Homo sapiens: one gene and its partners. The protein of the gene in region 3 interacts with the protein of the main gene of each other region in a biochemical or structural test. Each region holds a gene or a part of one and is shown on either strand. Other genes may lie near its edges.

The links.
Region 1: the proteins of ODF1 (region 3) and TRIP6 form a complex in vitro, tested with the Homo sapiens proteins (one study listed by BioGRID).
Region 2: the proteins of ODF1 (region 3) and SPAG4 form a complex in vitro, tested with the Homo sapiens proteins (one study listed by BioGRID).

Annotation. Positions count from the first base shown.
Region 1 is NC_000007.14:100,862,491-100,870,402, forward strand, and holds the start of TRIP6 (thyroid receptor-interacting protein 6), read left to right. Parts: upstream 1-4,896; 5' UTR 4,897-5,007; coding exon 5,008-5,116; intron 5,117-5,370; coding exon 5,371-5,498; intron 5,499-5,545; exon of another isoform or gene 5,546-5,617; coding exon 5,618-5,743; intron 5,744-6,004; coding exon 6,005-6,376; intron 6,377-7,879; coding exon 7,880-7,912. Other genes in the region: SLC12A9 (solute carrier family 12 member 9), read left to right, coding at 191-337, 3,229-4,115. UniProt on the Homo sapiens protein: Relays signals from the cell surface to the nucleus to weaken adherens junction and promote actin cytoskeleton reorganization and cell invasiveness. Involved in lysophosphatidic acid-induced cell adhesion and migration.
Region 2 is NC_000020.11:35,618,795-35,621,680, forward strand, and holds the end of SPAG4 (sperm-associated antigen 4 protein), read left to right. Parts: intron 1-128; coding exon 129-204; intron 205-400; coding exon 401-516; intron 517-784; coding exon 785-952; intron 953-1,889; coding exon 1,890-1,979; intron 1,980-2,081; coding exon 2,082-2,228; 3' UTR 2,229-2,300; downstream 2,301-2,886. UniProt on the Homo sapiens protein: Involved in spermatogenesis. Required for sperm head formation but not required to establish and maintain general polarity of the sperm head. Required for anchoring and organization of the manchette.
Region 3 is NC_000008.11:102,547,294-102,554,623, reverse strand, and holds the start of ODF1 (outer dense fiber protein 1), read right to left. Parts: upstream 3,036-7,330; 5' UTR 2,897-3,035; coding exon 2,577-2,896; intron 1-2,576.

The DNA of each region.
Region 1 (7,912 bases), on a different chromosome or scaffold from region 3:
CCACCTTGGCTTCCCAAAGGGCAGGGATTACAGGCATGAGCCCCGACACCAGCCCCTCTGCCCCTTTTATCCTTTCCCATGACCCCTCCAAGTAGCCATAGCCCTGCCCAGGCCCGTCTGTGATTTGGACTCTAGGAGACATTGAGTTTGGACAACACTGGCTACCTTCCTTTCCTTATCTTCTCTGTAGACTCCCTGCCCTCGGACCCTGTACAGCCGCAGTATGGGGCATGGCTCAGCCTGGTGGACCGTGCCCAGGTGAAGGCTTTTGTGGATCTAACCCTCTCACCCTCCGTGCGCCAGGGGGCTCAGCATCTGCTGCGAATCTCCGGCCTCGGTGAGCTGCTTCTCCCTGGATGCCCTCGGCCTTCCTCTGTGGCCACTTCAAATCTCCGCTCCCCTCCCCTAGAGAGTCAGCCACAGATTGCAAACTGCAAAAGGACCTTATAGTCGAGAGGAGATAAGACAGTGCTCAAAGATAATAGCCTCAGACAGTGTGTGATAAGGTCTAATAGGAGATGCTAGGGACTAGTGATGGGGTGGGCGATGTTGTGGGTTTTTTTTCCTTCTTCTTTTTTTTTTTTTTTTTTGAGACGGAGTCTCACTCTGTCTTGCCCAGGCTGGAGTACAGTGGCACGATCTTGGCTCACTGCCTCCTCCACCTCCCAGGTTCAAGTGATTCTCCTGTCTTAGCCTCCCAAATATCTGGGACTATAGGCATGTGCTACCATACCTGGCTAATTTTTGTATTTTTAGTAGAGATGGGGGTTTCACCATGTTGCCCAGGCCAGTGTCGAGCTCCTGACCTCAGGTGATCTACCCGCCTCGGCCTCCCAAAGTGCTGGGATTACAGGCATGTACCACTGTGCCCAGCCTTTCCTTCTTTTTTTTTCTGATCCAAAAATTGGGGCATAGGCACTGAAGAGTGTATTTTTGGAGACAATGGAGCATTATTTGAATCTCCAGCTGCCTCATCAAATCAGATGGTTTTTAACCACCAGTGTTCAGAGGAAGGCAGGCCAGCCACTATACACTGATGTGGCCAGCAAAGGTTTTGCGGAGAGATGGTAATTCATCCAGACTTTGAAAGAGGTTGGGATGTAGGAGATGTAACATGTCTCCCCTGCCCCCGCCACCCAAAGCCACAAAGGATGCCGGAGGCTGTGTGGGGCGGACGTCTGTGGATGGAGCGGTAAATTCTCAGCTTTTAGCGCTGAGGCCACCAGGGTTATCTATGCTCAGTCACTGCCTTTTCCCTTAATCCTGGACCAGTGCCCGTCACCAAAGTGCATGCTTCCTTCTCTATTCAGAGTCTGGCTAAAGTTCAACAGTGTTGGACATTGCCCAGTTCAGTGTAAATCAGAACCCTGGGAAATACTGAGGAGGGGGCATGACTAGTTTATTTTGCAAGATCAGCTGGAATTCACACCTGCGGAGATGTTTTGGGGTGTCGTCAAGCATCATTGACCCACAGAACATCTGAGAGCCTGGTCTTCACTTTTTGTGCAGAGACCACAATGCTTATGAAATACGAAATTTTTCCTGTGGAAGATATCAGGTCGGTGCAAAAGCAATTGCGGTTTTTGCCTTTTTTTTTTTTTTTTTTTGGACAGGGTCTCACTCTGTTGCCCAGGCTGGAGTGCAGTGGCACAATGTCAGCTCACTGCAACCTCTGCCTCCCGGGTTCAAGTATTCTCCCATCTCAGCCTCCCAAGTAGCTGGGACTACAGATATACGCCAGCATTGTCCGGCTAATTTTTGTATATTTTTGGTAGAGACGGGGTTTCACCATATTGCCCAGGCTGATCTCGAACTTCCAACCTCAGGTGATCCGCCTGCCTCAGCCTCCCAAAGTGCTGGGATGCCATTTTAATGGGGGAAAAAAAGAACCACAATTACTTTTGCACCAACCTATTCCAATAAAAGGAAAAGTAGTTCCTTTAAATGGTGGATTCTCCTGTCATAGAAAATTTGATTTATGGCTTGAGCAGTGTTTGTTTCATGAGAAGGGGTCTTGGAAGAGGTCTCTGCGTCTCCCTGTAAACTCAGCAATTATCCGATTCCACAAGGGTTGTTCAAAAATTAAGAACGAAGAGCTTGTCAGCAGGGACTTGGAGCATTGTGGTTGCCACGTGCCCAGCTCGGTGGCTCAGAGTGTGGCCTCTCACGCTGGATGGAGGCGGATTGCGTTGACCTACCTGCCCCAGTACCTACCAGATATGAGCCTATGGGCAAGTGACTTCATCCCTTGGTGCTTTGGGCTCCTTATCAGTAAAAAGAGGAGACTAAATATTACCTACCTCATAGCATTACTTCGAGTTTCAAATAAGTTAAAATATAAAGTGCTTTCTACAGGACATAGCCCCTGGTAAGCGGATACCATGCAATGAACCACCATGATTAGGGTTTTGGTAAAACCTACTAGGGTTAGGGTTTACTGCAGTAAACATACGGGGTAGCCCTGTTTCTTTTTTTCTTTTTTTTTGAGATGGAGTCTCGCTCTGTTGCCCAGGCTGGAGTGCAGTGGCGTGATCTCGGCTTACTACAACCACCACCTTCCGGGTTCAGGCAATTCTCATGTCTCAGCCTCCTGAGTAGCTGGGATTATAGATGCCCACCACAATGCCCGGCTAATTTTTGTATTTTTAGTAGAGATAGCATTTCACCGTATTGGCCAGGCTGGTCTCAAACTCCTGATCTCAGGTGATCAACGTGCCTCAGCTTCCCAAGATGCTGCGATTACAGGTGTGAGCCACGGTGCCCTGCCTGGTCCATTTTTTCATCTTCCCATTGCAGAGTCTGGGACGCTATTACCCTGGGGATTCAGGTCATGAGCTTGGCTGATCAGGGTGTCTGGTTTGCACAACAGAGTCAAACTCGCATCCCCTGCCGTGAAACAGATGCCCCGCTAGAAGCCGGGAGTGGACAGCATCCTCCTCTCCATAGAATTGGAGTGCTCATTAGTGGCAAGAATCCTAAGGCGAACTTTGCCTGTTTAAGTGGAGGAGATTAGTCACTGAGATAATAAAATAAATGCATGTGAAAGTGTTTAGGAAAAATGAAAAGTCTTTATGCAAATATGCAGAATGTTGCCGTAAGAGCCCGTACACAGTGGGAATGTCATACCTATGGCTGACGCACCTTGCTGTCAGTGTGTGGGAGCGTGGTGTAAACTTAGCCTGTGAGCCTGACTCCTGTCTGTTCCTGCCTTCCCCGCTCTGCCCCCAGGTGGCATGAAGCCCAACACGTTGGTCCTAGGTTTCTACGATGACGCTCCACCGCAGGACCATTTCCTGACGGACCCGGCTTTCTCTGAGCCTGCAGACAGCACCAGGGAGGGCAGTTCCCCAGCTCTGAGCACCCTGTTCCCTCCTCCCCGGGCTCCTGGGAGCCCCCGGGCCCTCAATCCCCAGGACTATGTGGCCACGGTGGCCGACGCCCTCAAGATGAACAAGAATGTGGTGCTGGCCCGGGCCAGCGGGGCCTTGCCCCCTGAGCGGCTGAGCCGGGGGTCTGGGGGCACCTCTCAGCTGCACCATGTGGACGTGTGGCCCCTCAACCTGCTGCGGCCCCGGGGTGGGCCCGGCTATGTGGATGTCTGCGGCCTCTTCCTGCTGCAGATGGCAACCATCTTGGGCATGGTGCCCGCTTGGCATAGCGCCCGGCTCCGGATCTTCCTGTGCCTGGGGCCTCGGGAGGCGCCTGGGGCGGCCGAGGGGCGGCTGCGGGCACTGCTGAGCCAACTGAGGATCCGGGCTGAGGTGCAGGAGGTGGTGTGGGGCGAGGGGGCCGGGGCTGGGGAACCCGAGGCGGAGGAGGAAGGGGACTTTGTGAACAGTGGGCGGGGAGACGCAGAGGCAGAGGCCCTGGCACGCAGCGCCAACGCCCTGGTTCGGGCCCAGCAGGGGCGCGGCACAGGAGGAGGGCCGGGTGGGCCGGAGGGTGGGGATGCTGAGGGCCCCATCACAGCCCTCACCTTCCTGTACTTGCCTCGGCCGCCAGCCGATCCCGCCCGATACCCCCGCTACCTGGCGCTACTGGAGACTCTAACCCGAGACCTGGGCCCCACGCTGCTGGTTCATGGGGTCACTCCAGTCACCTGCACTGATCTGTGATGCCCCTGCCTCCAGGGCTAGGTAGAGAGGGCCCAGGCAGGCGGCCTATCCTGATCCTTGGAGGAGGAGGAAGAGGAGGCCACTGTGGCCCGTGGCCCTGCCCTTGGGACGTGGAGCCCAGGGGAGGTTTGAAGGGGATCCTGGGCTTGGGCATCACGCCCACCTCCTTTGGCAGAGGGACCCCAGCACACTAACTCTGGGTGGCTGTCCCCACCGTGCAGGGGAGGGAGTCCGCAGCCTCCCTTCACTGGTGCCTTGATGCTAGGGGCCAGGCCTCCTCTGTGACTCTGGGCTACCTCAGTTTCCCCATTTTGGCCAGACTCACCGGCCCACTGGGGTGGTGATGTTTTCGTTCTGTTTTATTTTTCTAACTCTGCTGACCATGAATAAAAGACCAAAACACTACAGGCTGGCTGAGCAGTGCTGGTGGGTAGCTGAGAGGGAGGGGGTGGGAATGGAGAGCTCTGCAGAGGGGTGGAGATCGGAGCCTTCAGCCTCCCGCCGCGAGGCTGCCACGTGCAGGGCTGGGGTGCGGGGCCCGGACGCATCCGTGGACTTGGAGGCTGGCTCGGGCCCGCACCTCCCATCCCCAGCTGCCCGCAACCCCCAGTGACTCGGGATCCCCCGGAGAGCCCTCCCCTCTCGGCAGGAGGGGGCTGACTCAGGGAGAAATGGCAGTTTAGGGCCTAGGGGGCCACGTGACCCTCCCCCAGGAATGTGGTGACGTCATCGGAGGCGTGGTCGTCCCCAAAATTAGGGAGGAAGAGGAAAAAAAAAAGCCAGAAAAAGTTTTCTTTTCTGGAGTCCCAAACGAGGTGCGGGACGGAAGAGGGGGTGAAGGCCAGAGGCTCGGGGCTTCAAGACCGCTGTCTGGAGTCCCCCTTTCCAGGCCATGTCGGGGCCCACCTGGCTGCCCCCGAAGCAGCCGGAGCCCGCCAGAGCCCCTCAGGGGAGGGCGATCCCCCGCGGCACCCCGGGGCCACCACCGGCCCACGGAGCAGGTAAGGCAGCCCTTGTGAGACAGAAGAGCCACCCAGCTGTGGCGCTCACCTCTGTCCTACCGCTCCAGCCTCCCGCCCTGGCTGCTTCCTCCTGCCCCTTCCCCAAGCCGAGGCGGGGGGAACAGCCGCCTGCGCTCTCTTGGGACCCTAGATTTGGGGGAGGAGGTAACGAGAGGCGGAGAGGGTGGCTCCTCAAATATACACCCCTCCTGTCCTCCGCCACCCCACCTTTGATTTCTCTTCCCTCAACCCAGCACTCCAGCCCCACCCCAGGGTCAATTTTTGCCCCCTTCCATCTGAGCAGTGTTACCAGGCCCCAGGGGGACCGGAGGATCGGGGGCCGGCGTGGGTGGGGTCCCATGGAGTACTCCAGCACACGCAGGTGAGACCCGGGATCGTGGGGTGGGACATGTGGGATCCCCCAGAACCGAGTCTGAGGGACCCAGGACAGGAGAAGGCCTATGGTGATTTGCATTCTTCCTGCCCTGGCTCCATCCTCAGGGGCTCCCTGCAGACAGGGGGGGCCTTCGCCCTGGAAGCCTGGACGCCGAGATAGACTTGCTGAGCAGCACGCTGGCCGAGCTGAATGGGGGTCGGGGTCATGCGTCACGGCGACCAGACCGACAGGTGACTCTGCCCCTCCTCCCCGTCAGCACCCTGCCCCCTTCTCTGGACTCTCAGACCCAGCCTGATCGATCCCCCATGTGTGTAATGTGCACCCCAGCATGGAGGAAGCGTGGCTGCAAGTACCAACATGTCAGCCACTTGAGGACGGGACCTTGTCAAATGCAAAAAGCCTGTGCTTCCCCACAGCCAGGGTCATTTCCACAAATGTGGGTCTTGGAGTGGGGTCCTTGCTTACGACTTCTGGCCTGCGTTTCTCCTCAGGCATATGAGCCCCCGCCACCTCCTGCCTACCGCACGGGCTCCCTGAAGCCAAATCCAGCCTCGCCGCTCCCAGCGTCTCCCTATGGGGGCCCCACTCCAGCCTCTTACACTACCGCCAGCACCCCGGCTGGCCCAGCCTTCCCCGTGCAAGTGAAGGTGGCACAGCCAGTGAGGGGCTGCGGCCCACCCAGGCGGGGAGCCTCTCAGGCCTCTGGGCCCCTCCCGGGCCCCCACTTTCCTCTCCCAGGCCGAGGTGAAGTCTGGGGGCCTGGCTATAGGAGCCAGAGAGAGCCAGGGCCAGGGGCCAAAGAGGAAGCTGCTGGGGTCTCTGGCCCTGCAGGAAGAGGAAGAGGAGGCGAGCACGGGCCCCAGGTGAGCCCTGGGGAACTGGGATTTCAGGCCCTACAGACAATGGGACACCGACTGGGTGGGGTGGCTGGTGGTGTTTTAGGGGGCTTTTTTGTTTTTTGAGACAGAGTTTTGCTCTTGTTTGCCCAGGCTGGGGTGCAGTGGTGCCATCTTGGCTCACTGCAACCTCTGCCTCCCGGGTTCAAGTGATTCTCCTGCCTCAGCCTCCTGAATAACTGGATTACAGGCACACGCTGCCACGCTTGGTTAATTTTTGTATTTTTAGTACAGACGGGGTTTCACTAAAACCCCAGTTTGTTGGCCAGGCTGGTCTCGAACTCCCGACCTCAGGTGATCCGCCTGCCTCAGCCTCCCAAAGTGCTGGGATTGCAGGCCTGAGCCACCGCGCCTGGCCAAGGGGCTGGTTTTGGAGCAGAGTCAGAGGTCTGGGACGTGGAATAGGTAAGGGCAGGGCAGTGCGGGGGAGCAGGATAGAACTGCCCATTGGGGCTGAGCGCGGTGGCTCATGCCTGTAATCCCAGCACTTTGGGAGGCTGAGGTGGGTGGATCACCTGAGGTCACGAGTTCGAGACCACACTGACCAACATGGAGAAACCTCGTCTCTACTAAAAATACAAAATTAGCCAGGCATGGTGGCACATGCCTGTAATCCCAGCTACTCGGGAGGTTGAGGCAGGAGAATCACTTGAACCTGGGAGGTGGAGGTTGCGGTGAGCCGAGATCGCACCACTGCTCTCCAACCTGGGCAACAAGAGCAAAACTCTGTCTCAAAAAAAAAAAAAAAAAAAAAAAAGAACTGCCTACGGGCCCCTGGGCTGAGATGTTCTCAGATGAGCTTTCTAGCTGGAACTGCCTGGCCACCTTCAGAGACATTATAGCAGTCCCCAATCTTTTTGGCACCAGGGACCAGTTTTGGGGAAAACAATTTTTCCATGGACTGGGGAGGGGGATGGGAGGGGGTGGGAGGGGGATGGTTTCAGGATGATTCAAGCACATTACATTCATTGTGCACTTTATTTCTGTTATAATAATAATAGAATATATAGTATATATAATTGTTTCGGTATATATTACAATGTATATTACAATGTAATATATACCGAAACAATTATACAATTCACCATCATGTAGGATCAGTGGGAGCCCTGAGCTTGTTTTCCTGCAACTGGACAGTCCCATCTGGGGGTGATGGGAGACAGTGACAGATCATCAGGCATTAGATTCTCATAAGGAGCTTGCAACCTACATCCTTCGAACACACAGTTCACAATAGGGTTCATGCTCCTATGAGAATCTAACGCCGCTGCTGATCTGACAGGAGGTGGAGCTCAGGCGGTAATGCAAGTGATGGGGAGCAGCTGTAAATACAGATGAAGCTTTGCTTGCCCATTGCTCAGCTCCTGCTGTGTGGCCCAGTTCCTAACAGGCCATGGCCTGGCGGCTGAGGGCCCTGGTATTACAGCATCAGGAGCTAGAGTAGGACCGAGCCCGATTCCCACCTTCCAGGTGCCCCTGAGCCAGCCTCCAGAGGATGAGCTG
Region 2 (2,886 bases), on a different chromosome or scaffold from region 3:
AGCCCTGCGGGATTTCTCCCGGTGCCCACGAAGTCCATCCCAAAGCAACCAGCTCCCAGAGGTCCCGTCCACCTGTAAAAGCAGCCCGCAAGCCTCGCCCCTCCAGGCCTCGCCCTCCCTCCTTGCAGAGAGTGGCCAAGCTCGTGTTCCAGAGGCTGAATGAGGATTTTGTGCGGAAGCCCGACTATGCTTTGAGCTCTGTGGGTAAGACCCGGAGACACTGGAAGACAGAGACGCAGACAGGAAAGAGGCCAAGACACTGACACAGACAGACCCATGCACCTGACCGGCCGAAGACAGAGCCTCGGACAGCCCCCACCCGCCCCCAGCCCCCGCGCCCCCGCGCCCCGACTCCCGGCAAGGCCTGGGAGCCTCTGAGGGTTACTTCTCACTGTTCCAGGAGCCTCCATCGACCTGCAGAAGACATCCCACGATTACGCAGACAGGAACACTGCCTACTTCTGGAATCGCTTCAGCTTCTGGAACTACGCACGGCCGCCCACGGTTATCCTGGAGGTGAGTCTGGAAACATCCCGGGATGGGACCCCGGGCGGGACGCTGGGAAAAGCACCAAAACCCCGCCCTACAGGCGGAGCTTGGCTGAGCCGAGGGCGTGGAGGATGGCGTTTAACTCAAGGAGAGACCTGGCATTGCTGGGGACTGGGGCGGGCTGGAGGTGGAGCTCTGGGCGGGTCGATGGATGGGGTCGAGCTGAGGCCCGGGCTGGGGAGCGGCAGCAGTCGCTCTGTCCGACGGTTCCGATGGTCCCTCCGCCCGCCTGCAGCCCCACGTGTTCCCTGGGAATTGCTGGGCTTTTGAAGGCGACCAAGGCCAGGTGGTGATCCAACTGCCGGGCCGAGTGCAGCTGAGCGACATCACTCTGCAGCATCCACCGCCCAGCGTGGAGCACACCGGAGGAGCCAACAGCGCCCCCCGCGATTTCGCGGTCTTTGTGAGTGCGGACGAGGTCAGGAGGTGGGGGATTTTGCCTAGAGAGCCCAAGCAGTCTTGAGAACTGGTGCCGTTATCTGAGTCTTCGCTTGCTCATCTATAAAATGAAGATACTACTATTTGCCTCTCAGAGCTGCTGTAGGTTATAGTCATAACCATATCCAGATATTAGTTATTGCTTGCAAAGCACTTACTCCGTGCCAAGCAGTTTACAGGCATTCTTATTTTGCTGTTGTTTTTGAGACAGTCTCGCTCTTGTCACCCAGGCTGCTGGAGTGCAGTGGTGCCATCTCAGCTCACCTGCAACCTCAGCCTCTAGGATTCAAGCGATTCTTGTGCCTCATCCTCCCGAGTAGCTGGAATTACAGGCGTGCGCCACCATGCTCGGCTAATTTTTGTATTTTTAGTAGAGATGGGGTTTCACCATGTTGGCCAGGATGGTCTCAAACTCCTGACCTCAAGTGATCCGCCTTCCTCGGCCTTCTGAAATGCTAGGATTACAGGCATGAGCCACCGTGCCTGCTTTGCACCCACATAACAACCTATGATGTACTGTTATCTCCCCCTTTAAAGATGAAGAAAGTAATGCTCAGAGAGGGGAAGTTATTTTTCCAAGGTAATACAACTAACAGTTGGCAGGATTAAATTTAAAACCTGGTTTCTTCCCGGGAGGTGGAGCTTGCAGTGAGCCAAGATCTCACCACTGCACTCCAGCCTGGGTGACAGAGCAACACTCCGTCTCAAAATAAATAAATAAATAAAACCTGGTTTCTTAGAGCCCACATTCTGAATTACAGTGTACGACCATCAAAAAATACATGAGAACATGCATATAGCTATTGAATACACAGAAGATCCTCAGCAAAGTTTTCTTCTCCCCGCCCCCCCCGCCCCACCTGTCCCCCTCATAGTTCCTCCTTTCATTCTTCACCCACCAGGGCCTCCAGGTTTATGATGAAACTGAAGTTTCCTTGGGGAAATTCACCTTCGATGTTGAGAAATCGGAGATTCAGACTTTCCACCTGCAGGTGTGTTTGTCTCTAGGGTGAAGGTGCCAAGGGAGTGGGGCAGTGAGGGATGAATGATCCAGGAGGAGGGCAGCCCTTGGCATGATCCATTTGTCTCCCCAGAATGACCCCCCAGCTGCCTTTCCCAAGGTGAAGATCCAGATTCTAAGCAACTGGGGCCACCCCCGTTTCACGTGCTTGTATCGAGTCCGTGCCCACGGTGTGCGAACCTCAGAGGGGGCAGAGGGCAGTGCACAGGGGCCCCATTAAACATGCTGATTTTTGGAGTAGAATTGAGTTCTGCTGAAGGATACTGGATCAGTGCTTTCGGGGGCTCTGTTGGGAGAGCTCTGGCTGCCGTTGCATCTAAGTATGGAGGGGCTGACTTCCCAATGCACCCTCTTTTCTTGGAGAAGTCTTGATCAAGATCGTAATAGCAGCTCCTGTTTATGGAGTGCCTACCACGTACAAGAAACAGTGCTGTGGACATTACACACATTACCTAACTTCATTCTCACAACCAGAAAGGGAAGCTGCTCAGGTCAGGAAACTTGTTCAATGTCACACAGCTAGTGAAAGGCAGTGACAGAGCAGTACCCAGGCCCACCTTCCTCCAGAGCCAGTCCTCTAACTGCAGAGCTGCAGGCAGCCTGAACCCACCTTTGTGCTCAATTCCCAGCCCCAGTGGGAAAGTCCCCAACTCCTGCTAGGTACCGGTGGAGGGGTAGCTACCCACCTTCTGCAGGCACACACTCAAAAGCTAAGGAGACTTGATAACCTCTAGGAAGCTTCTGAGTCACAGAGCTGATGCAGGCCTGGTAGCCCCTACATAGGTTGTCTTACTGAGACCTGAGTTCCCAACTCTGTGTGAGGCACAGCATAGATGATTTAGTGTTCACCAGTCCCTGCCCTCAAGGAGCCTGACAGG
Region 3 (7,330 bases):
ATCAATCAAATAACATATAGTCAGGAGTGCTCAAGAAACCTGTGGGATCAATTAAGAAATTGTTGGTTGAGGCTTTTTACCAGTTATTAAAGGAGGACCCAGAGACACAGCAGATTGACTGTGACACAGAAAAACAGTTTCAAGGGGGCCAAGGCAACTATAGACTATAGAGTCTTTACTTCATATTGGGCAAAGAACCTTCTGGACAACACAGCCTGCCATCTGAAAGGATATGTCATAACTAACCAACCCCCTTGCATTCTTTAAAGGGGAGGAAGGTCATGTGAATATGAATTCTAAACTCAAAAAGCCTTGGGCAAGCTTTCACACCAAAGATTGTTTTAAAAAATTGAATCAACATGATATTTCTGCATCTATTTAGTTATGGATCAGGCGCTAGCTTAGAGATAAGAATAAAAGGCACTGCACTAGAAGAAAAAATACTACACTGGGGGCCTTCTGGGACTGAGGCTAGAATCAGGGTTTAACATTTTCACCCATATTCAGGAAAATTGAATATTTAGGTTTGCAAGTGACACTAAGCCCTTCTGGAGAGTGAAATGTCAAGTTGTCAGAAATAGAGCATAGAAATTTCACAAGGTGGTGTGAATTGGAAGAGATAAAGCGGACAAGCCTGAGGTCATTTCTACAATGGACTTGGAGTTATCATTTCCGAGATCCAGAAATTAATGTAAAGACATCACCAGCTTCACATATTGCCTGCAGGCAGAGAAAAAATAGGCAAAGACCCAGACGCTGTCAGGAAGAGCATCACAAACCAGAGAAAACATTACCTCTTGCCTAAACTACACTGCCGAGAATTAAGCTTGAAGCTGTTTCTACTGCATGCCAAGAAACAAGGCTTCTGAAAGAGGCATCAAGAGAGTAGACAGCACAGGACAGAGAGGGATTTTAATTGGTAGAGTCTGGGGATAGGAGAGAAGCCAGGAAGACAGAGGCTGGAAAGACCTGGACAAGGGTATTCAAGTATCCAAAAGTAGGAGGAGAGTGGATACTGATCTGCTCACAAGGAAACCTTAACTTGGACCAAATATTTTAAAAAGAGTCCCTGCCTCACAGTGTGAGCAATTTATGTGACTTGATGCCCTAAGAAATAAAAACAAACATTGGTTCAAAGAGTATAGATGAATTTACAGGTGAAAGCTCCCAGGCTATGAGGGAGGTTCATTCCTGACCATTGGTGGCTGGTGACCTAGACAATAATTATCCTTTTTTTTTTTTTTTTTTTGAGACAGTCTCACTTTGTCACCCGGTCTGGAGTGTAGTGGTGCAATCTTGGCTCACTGCAACCTCTGCCTCCTGGGTTCAAGTGATTCTCCTGCCTCAGTCTCACGAGTAGCTGGGATTACAGGCACGTGCCACTACGCTTGGCTAATTTTTTTTTTTTTTTTTTTTTGTATTTAGTAGAGATGGGGTTTCACCATGTTAGCCAGGCTGGTCTCGAACTCTTGAGCTCAGGTGATCTGCCCGCCTCCGCCTCCCAAAGTGCTGGGATTACTGGCATGAGCCAATGCACCCGGCCTCCTATTGCTTTTTCCAAAGAAACATCACTGTCACTGTTGTCAAGAGACTCTATCTATCTATCATCTATCTATCTATCTATCTATCTATCTATCTATCTATCTGTCATCTGTCTATCAGTTTTTCTGCACTTTGCTTGTTTGACTTAATACATCAATATGTAAGATGCTTCATCAATCCTTTCTATATTTACTTATTATTCCAGTGCATGAATGTATTATTTATTTAACCAGGGACAGCACTTTCAACCATCTTTTTCATCAACAGTAACAGACTAAATGGCATATGTAAAAAGTTAGAAAAGGAAAGTTTTCTCCAGGCAAAAAGAAAATATAATCTAAAACAAAAATTTTTTTAAAAAACTGACTCTTTTTAATTACCCAATTCAATTAAAAAGCCTTTCAAGTCTATCCTGAAAGCTACAACTCAGTGCCATAGTTTATTTGCAAGACCTTTGCTAGAGTTAGAGGGGAGGCCAACATGATAGACCTAATTCCAGATACAAGGTAAGTCTTTGCCTGGAGTGGGGGGATAGGAGAATGATATTCCCACAAAACCAAGGCAATGCCTCTACTGTTCAATTTGCTCTCCTGCTTGTAAAGCCTCTGGCACACATTAAGGATTTGATCTATTATTATTACTTCTCCTGTAGTCATTTCTGTAAGTCCAAATATACTCAAATCACTTTACTCATAACCAGGAAAAATGTTTAGTTTGCTGCTTCCAATGGCTTTTTAATGACACCCCCTGTTTCTTCCCTTCATTAAAGCCGCATTATTTATCATACTGGCATTCTTGCTATAAACCACCGACGACCTTGCCAATCGACATCATTACATTGTCTTTTGAGAACCCTACAATTCCCATCATGGACTCATTTACTCTTCTTTCCTTAAATCTTTCCTAAGTCACCAGGGTCATTATCCTGAACCCTTTTAATCTTTGTTCAACTATTGATTGTCACATATTTTTCCTTATTCCAACTTATAAGGCTAATATACCGACTATAAAAATTTAAAAATAAGTTATTTTACTTGGCAAGCTCTCGCTTCTCATCTTCTATGGCTCTGATGGCTTTCCTCTCCAAACTTCTGAGAGATGGTCGCAGACAGTAAAGCTTATAATCACACAGGCAACATGGGTAGAGATCACACAGGCCGCAAGAGCGTGATCGCTTGGAATAGCACAAGCAGTACGGATATGGGTGCAAGTCACAGCAGCAATAGGGGTGCATATACAAGTCGCACAGGCACCGTGTGCTAAATTCGTCGATGCATCTCAGTTGCCTTAGTTCTCTGTCCACCTTCTTTATGTCCCTTCTGACACTGTCCAAGAGACAACTCAGTGCAGCCATTATGGTCACACCTGATTGTTCTGTGAGTACCTTTGGGAAATGGCACTCCGGGAAAAAATTTGTTCTAAGCCCTTCTCAGAAGTTGCTTTTAAAAATAAATGAGGCACACATGATTCACTTACTTTAAAGCTTGTGTTCTATGACCTCACCACCTTCTGAAGTATGTCATAGTCTTCTGGTTACCATGTGAACTGTACACAGTCATGGTCTCCAGAGACCATCCTCAGAGTTACAGAGCTACTCTCAGAACCATACTCGTGTTGAGATTTCACTCACCTTCAAGGAGGATGGGTCTCCCAAGCGAGCATAGCTCATCGGGGTGCATGGGGCTGGCCACTAACATCCTTGCCTTGTGTGTGCTCTGGGGACCAGCCATGGCTATGACTGTGTGTTTGTTGAACTTGGTGCAGGCGAAGGCAGGAGCTGCCCACGCCTTTCTCCATGACCTTCTAGCTCTAGCCTTGATTGGAAGCTTGGCCTTGCTCCTTTTGTTCTAGAATTCATTCTGTCTCCAGACAGGTAGAATATAAAGAATGTTCTCATCATTCTCCTCCTACCAAGTCATCCTCAAGTCAGCCATTGTCCTTGACCTTCTGAGTTACAAGTCTCTGAGTCCTGCCCATTCTGCGCCAGCTGTGGTCATGGCTGTTCGGGAACCTCATTTCTCTACTGGTTGGGGGTCCTGTCCTTAAGCTCCCATCTGTCAGTCCTCGGGGGCCTGTCCTGGGGAACTACCTCCCATCAACTACACCTTTGGTCTTGCATCCAAGCCTCCGGATGTCTTGTCCCTGAGTGCTTCCCAAATGTTGGTCTTTGATGTTCTTGTAGCCAACCGCCTGAAGATGCTGGAAGCCAACTGCCTGAAACCCCCGCTTCGGCCAGTTTCCTTTACTTTCTGTTCAGTTAACATCCTAGACCTCTGATTCGGCCTCAGATTTGGCTCTCGGTGCCTCTACTCCTCTGGTCCTTTCACCTCAAACTGCGGTCCAGCTCTCGAGTCTCCCTTGTATGAACTAGAGCTCAGGTATTGATGACAAGTGGTTGGATGTGACACTGGTGAGGGAGACAAGGGCCAGGTTTGAAGGGACCTGTAGCCAGACTAAGGACTCTGAACTTTATTTTGAGCCCAACGAAGGATTGTTGATTTTCTTTTCTTTTGTCAGAAGTGAGACAGCCACACTGAAGGTAAGTTGCTAGGGACAATAGTAGTGGGGTTTTCTGCTGCAAGACAAGAAGAGACAACAAAAATCTGGACTGGGGATCATGGCTATGGGGATGGCAAGGAGGAAGCCAATGGGAAAGCCTTCCCCCACCTCTGCCCAGGCCCCATCTAATCCATTTTCCACATTGTAGCCACAGCGACTTTCATATAGAAATCTGTCATTCCTCAACCTTCCCCACCCATCATCCCACTCACCTTAAAAGTCTTCTCTGTCCTCTCAAAAAAAGGACCAAAATCTTTACCAGGTGCTGAGCAATGGGGCCTCTCCCACTTCCCCACTCTCCTCTCCCATCCTAGTATTATTGCAATTCATTACCCCTCAGCCACGATGGCCTTCCTGGAAGACCACTCACTTTCCAGAGGCCGTTCCTTAGTCCCTTGAAGGACATTCCTCATTCCTTCCACCTCATTCAGAGCTCATACACAGGACGTTCTGCCTGCTTAGAAATTGAACTCCCCACCTATGACTTTCATCCATTTAATTCTTAAGGCACCCTTTAGATCTCCCCCTTTCTTGGGGAAGCCTTCTCTGTCTCCCAGACTAAACACTCTCTTAACTTAGGATACATTTCCTTCATGATATTGTTTCCCCAGCTGGACTGTAAGCCACGAGGGCAAGGACCTTGTCTATTTTTGCTTCGCAGTAGATACCTAACACAATGCCTGGCACATAGCAGGTGCTTGAAATGTACTCACTGAATGACCATCTGGGTGAATTCAACAGGATTTAGTGAACAGAGTGAGGATGGAGTGAGGGAGGAATCAGTGGTGACTTCCAGCTTTCAAGCTTGGCAGACTCTTGGTGCCACTGAGATAAAAATAACACAGGGAGAAGAGTAAGTTTGGGGATTTGGTGAACAGGTGGTGCTGGTGACAACTTTAAGGTAGAAATCTGGAGTATTCTGTGGATAAGAGGGTCTGGAATTTGAGGAAAGCCTGGGCTAGAGATATAAATTAGGAAGCCACAATTCCATAGGTAGTTGGAACCCTGGAAACAGGCAAGATAATTCAGAATTTAAAAAGAGAGCTGAAGCCGACTCCCAGGGAAAAATAAGTAGAAATGAGGAGAGTGAAGGAGTCCATGAAAGGCTCATAGAAGGAGTAACAGAGGGCGACAGCCCCCTCAGCTGGAGTCCCTTGGGAGTCACTAGACCAAGCATGGCATTCCCAATGGCTCGATGTTCCCCAGCCTTGACTTAGGAGGCCCTTTTCTGTGCAGATAATGTGTCTTAGCAAACAAGTGTCCCTAGAGGCATTAGAATGAGAGGCTGGCCCCTTGAGTCACGTGGAATGAGTCAAAAAGCAAAGCTGAATGATTCTCCTCTATGGACAAATTCTGACCTCTTTAAAAGTGATTCCACTGTGATTTGATTCTGAGGGGTGGACCCTATTAATAGAAATATGGCCTACTCTTTCCTGAGAGTTAATTGCAGGAGTTGTACAGATTTCTCTAGCTCCAGGTGACAGAGAATTCTTATATCACCTTGAATTCTATCCCTTAGCAAATGTCAGCAAAGATTGAAGCAGGCAAGCTCTCAGTTTAATATTATTATATACACAAGTTCAGGTGCCTAAATACACACATCTGTGTATACATGGTACATTATTAAGATGGGTATAGCTATATTTCAACTAGGATTCTCCCATTATCCCACCTTCCTAGTGATTTTTCTTTTTTTATTTTGAGACAGGGTCTTACTCTGTCACCCAGGCTGGAGCACAGTGGCATGTGCTCTCTGCAGCCTTGACCTCCTGAGCTCAGGTGAGCCTCCCACCTCAGCCTCCCCAGTAGCTGGGGCTATAGCCATGCACTACCATGCCTGCCTAACTTTTGTATTTTTTGTAGAAATGGGGTCTCACCATGTTGCCCAGCCTGGTCTCAAACTCCTGGGCTCAAGCCATCTGCTCACCTTGGCCTCCCAAAGTGCTGGGATTACAGGCATGAGTCACCACTCCTGTCCCTTCCTAGTGATTTTACTCTTCATCATGAAGTATATTCTTATCATTTTAAGTGACTAAATAAAGGTAGTGTCTTCTTTAATGATGAGATGGAAATGTGATCTATTCATATCAGAAGGATTTTAATATGGATTCTAATATGGAACTAGGACCTTCCGTATGCAGGACTATGTCCATGGAATCTCTCATTCACCTTGGCTGGTGTCCGGATAGAACCTCCTCTGGATGGAAGGCAGGTCTTGACACTTTCCCAAGTTGGGCAACACTTGCTTGGTCCCCAATGTTGGTGAAATCATGAGCCAAAGAAGGTCCCCTCTGCCTCTTCCAGCAGGTAGCACAGCTACAGCTCAAGTCTCGTCACCAGACCAATGTTACAAAGACACTTTTCTAACAGTTGTTAGGTCAGTACACAGTGCTTAAACATCAAATATGAAAGTATACACACAGTGTGACCTGAACTCTGTAAAAAAGAATCCATAGGCTAGGTGTGGTGGCTCACACCTGTAATTCCAGCACTTTGGGAGACCGAGGTGGGGAGAATCACTTGAGGCCAGGAGTTTGGGACCAGCTTGGGCAACATAGTGAGACCCCATCTTCTACAAAAATATTTAAAAATTAGCCAGGTATGGTGGCACATGCCTATGGTCCCAGCTACTCAGGAAAATGAGGAGGGAGGATCATTTGAGCCCAGAGGCTCTAGGCTACATTGAGTTATGATTGCACCTCTGCACTCCAGCCTGGGCAATAGGGTGAGACCCTGTCACAAAAAAAAAAAAAAAAAAAAGGAGAGAAACACCCTGAAAAATTAGCTGTGGTTAACTCTGGCTAGTAGAATCATAGATGGCTTTTAAAATTATTTTTTCTAGACTTTTCTGTGATTTCCAAATTTCTTCTATGAGGATATCACCAGTTTTATAATGAAACACTTTCTGATATTGTACTCTCAAGAAATCAGCTGTGTACTGAATCGCTAAGCCCACCTTTGGCCCCTGCCATCCCCCTAAGCAGGCCATTGGGGAAGTCTCCCTGGAATGGACATCTGGAATTTGGTCTGTCCATCATCCATGGCATCTTCTTTTGGTAAAATAACTTTCTCCGCTCCCCACTCCCACCCTCCACCATTAAGTGCTGCCAGTAAGTTGCCTAGCCAAAGGGCAGGCATGAAACCAAAGCTGGCTGATCTGACTGTCTTCTGGGAATTTGATCTTTAGCAGAGAGACATAAAGCCTGAAGACAGTTGGAGCTGATTCATT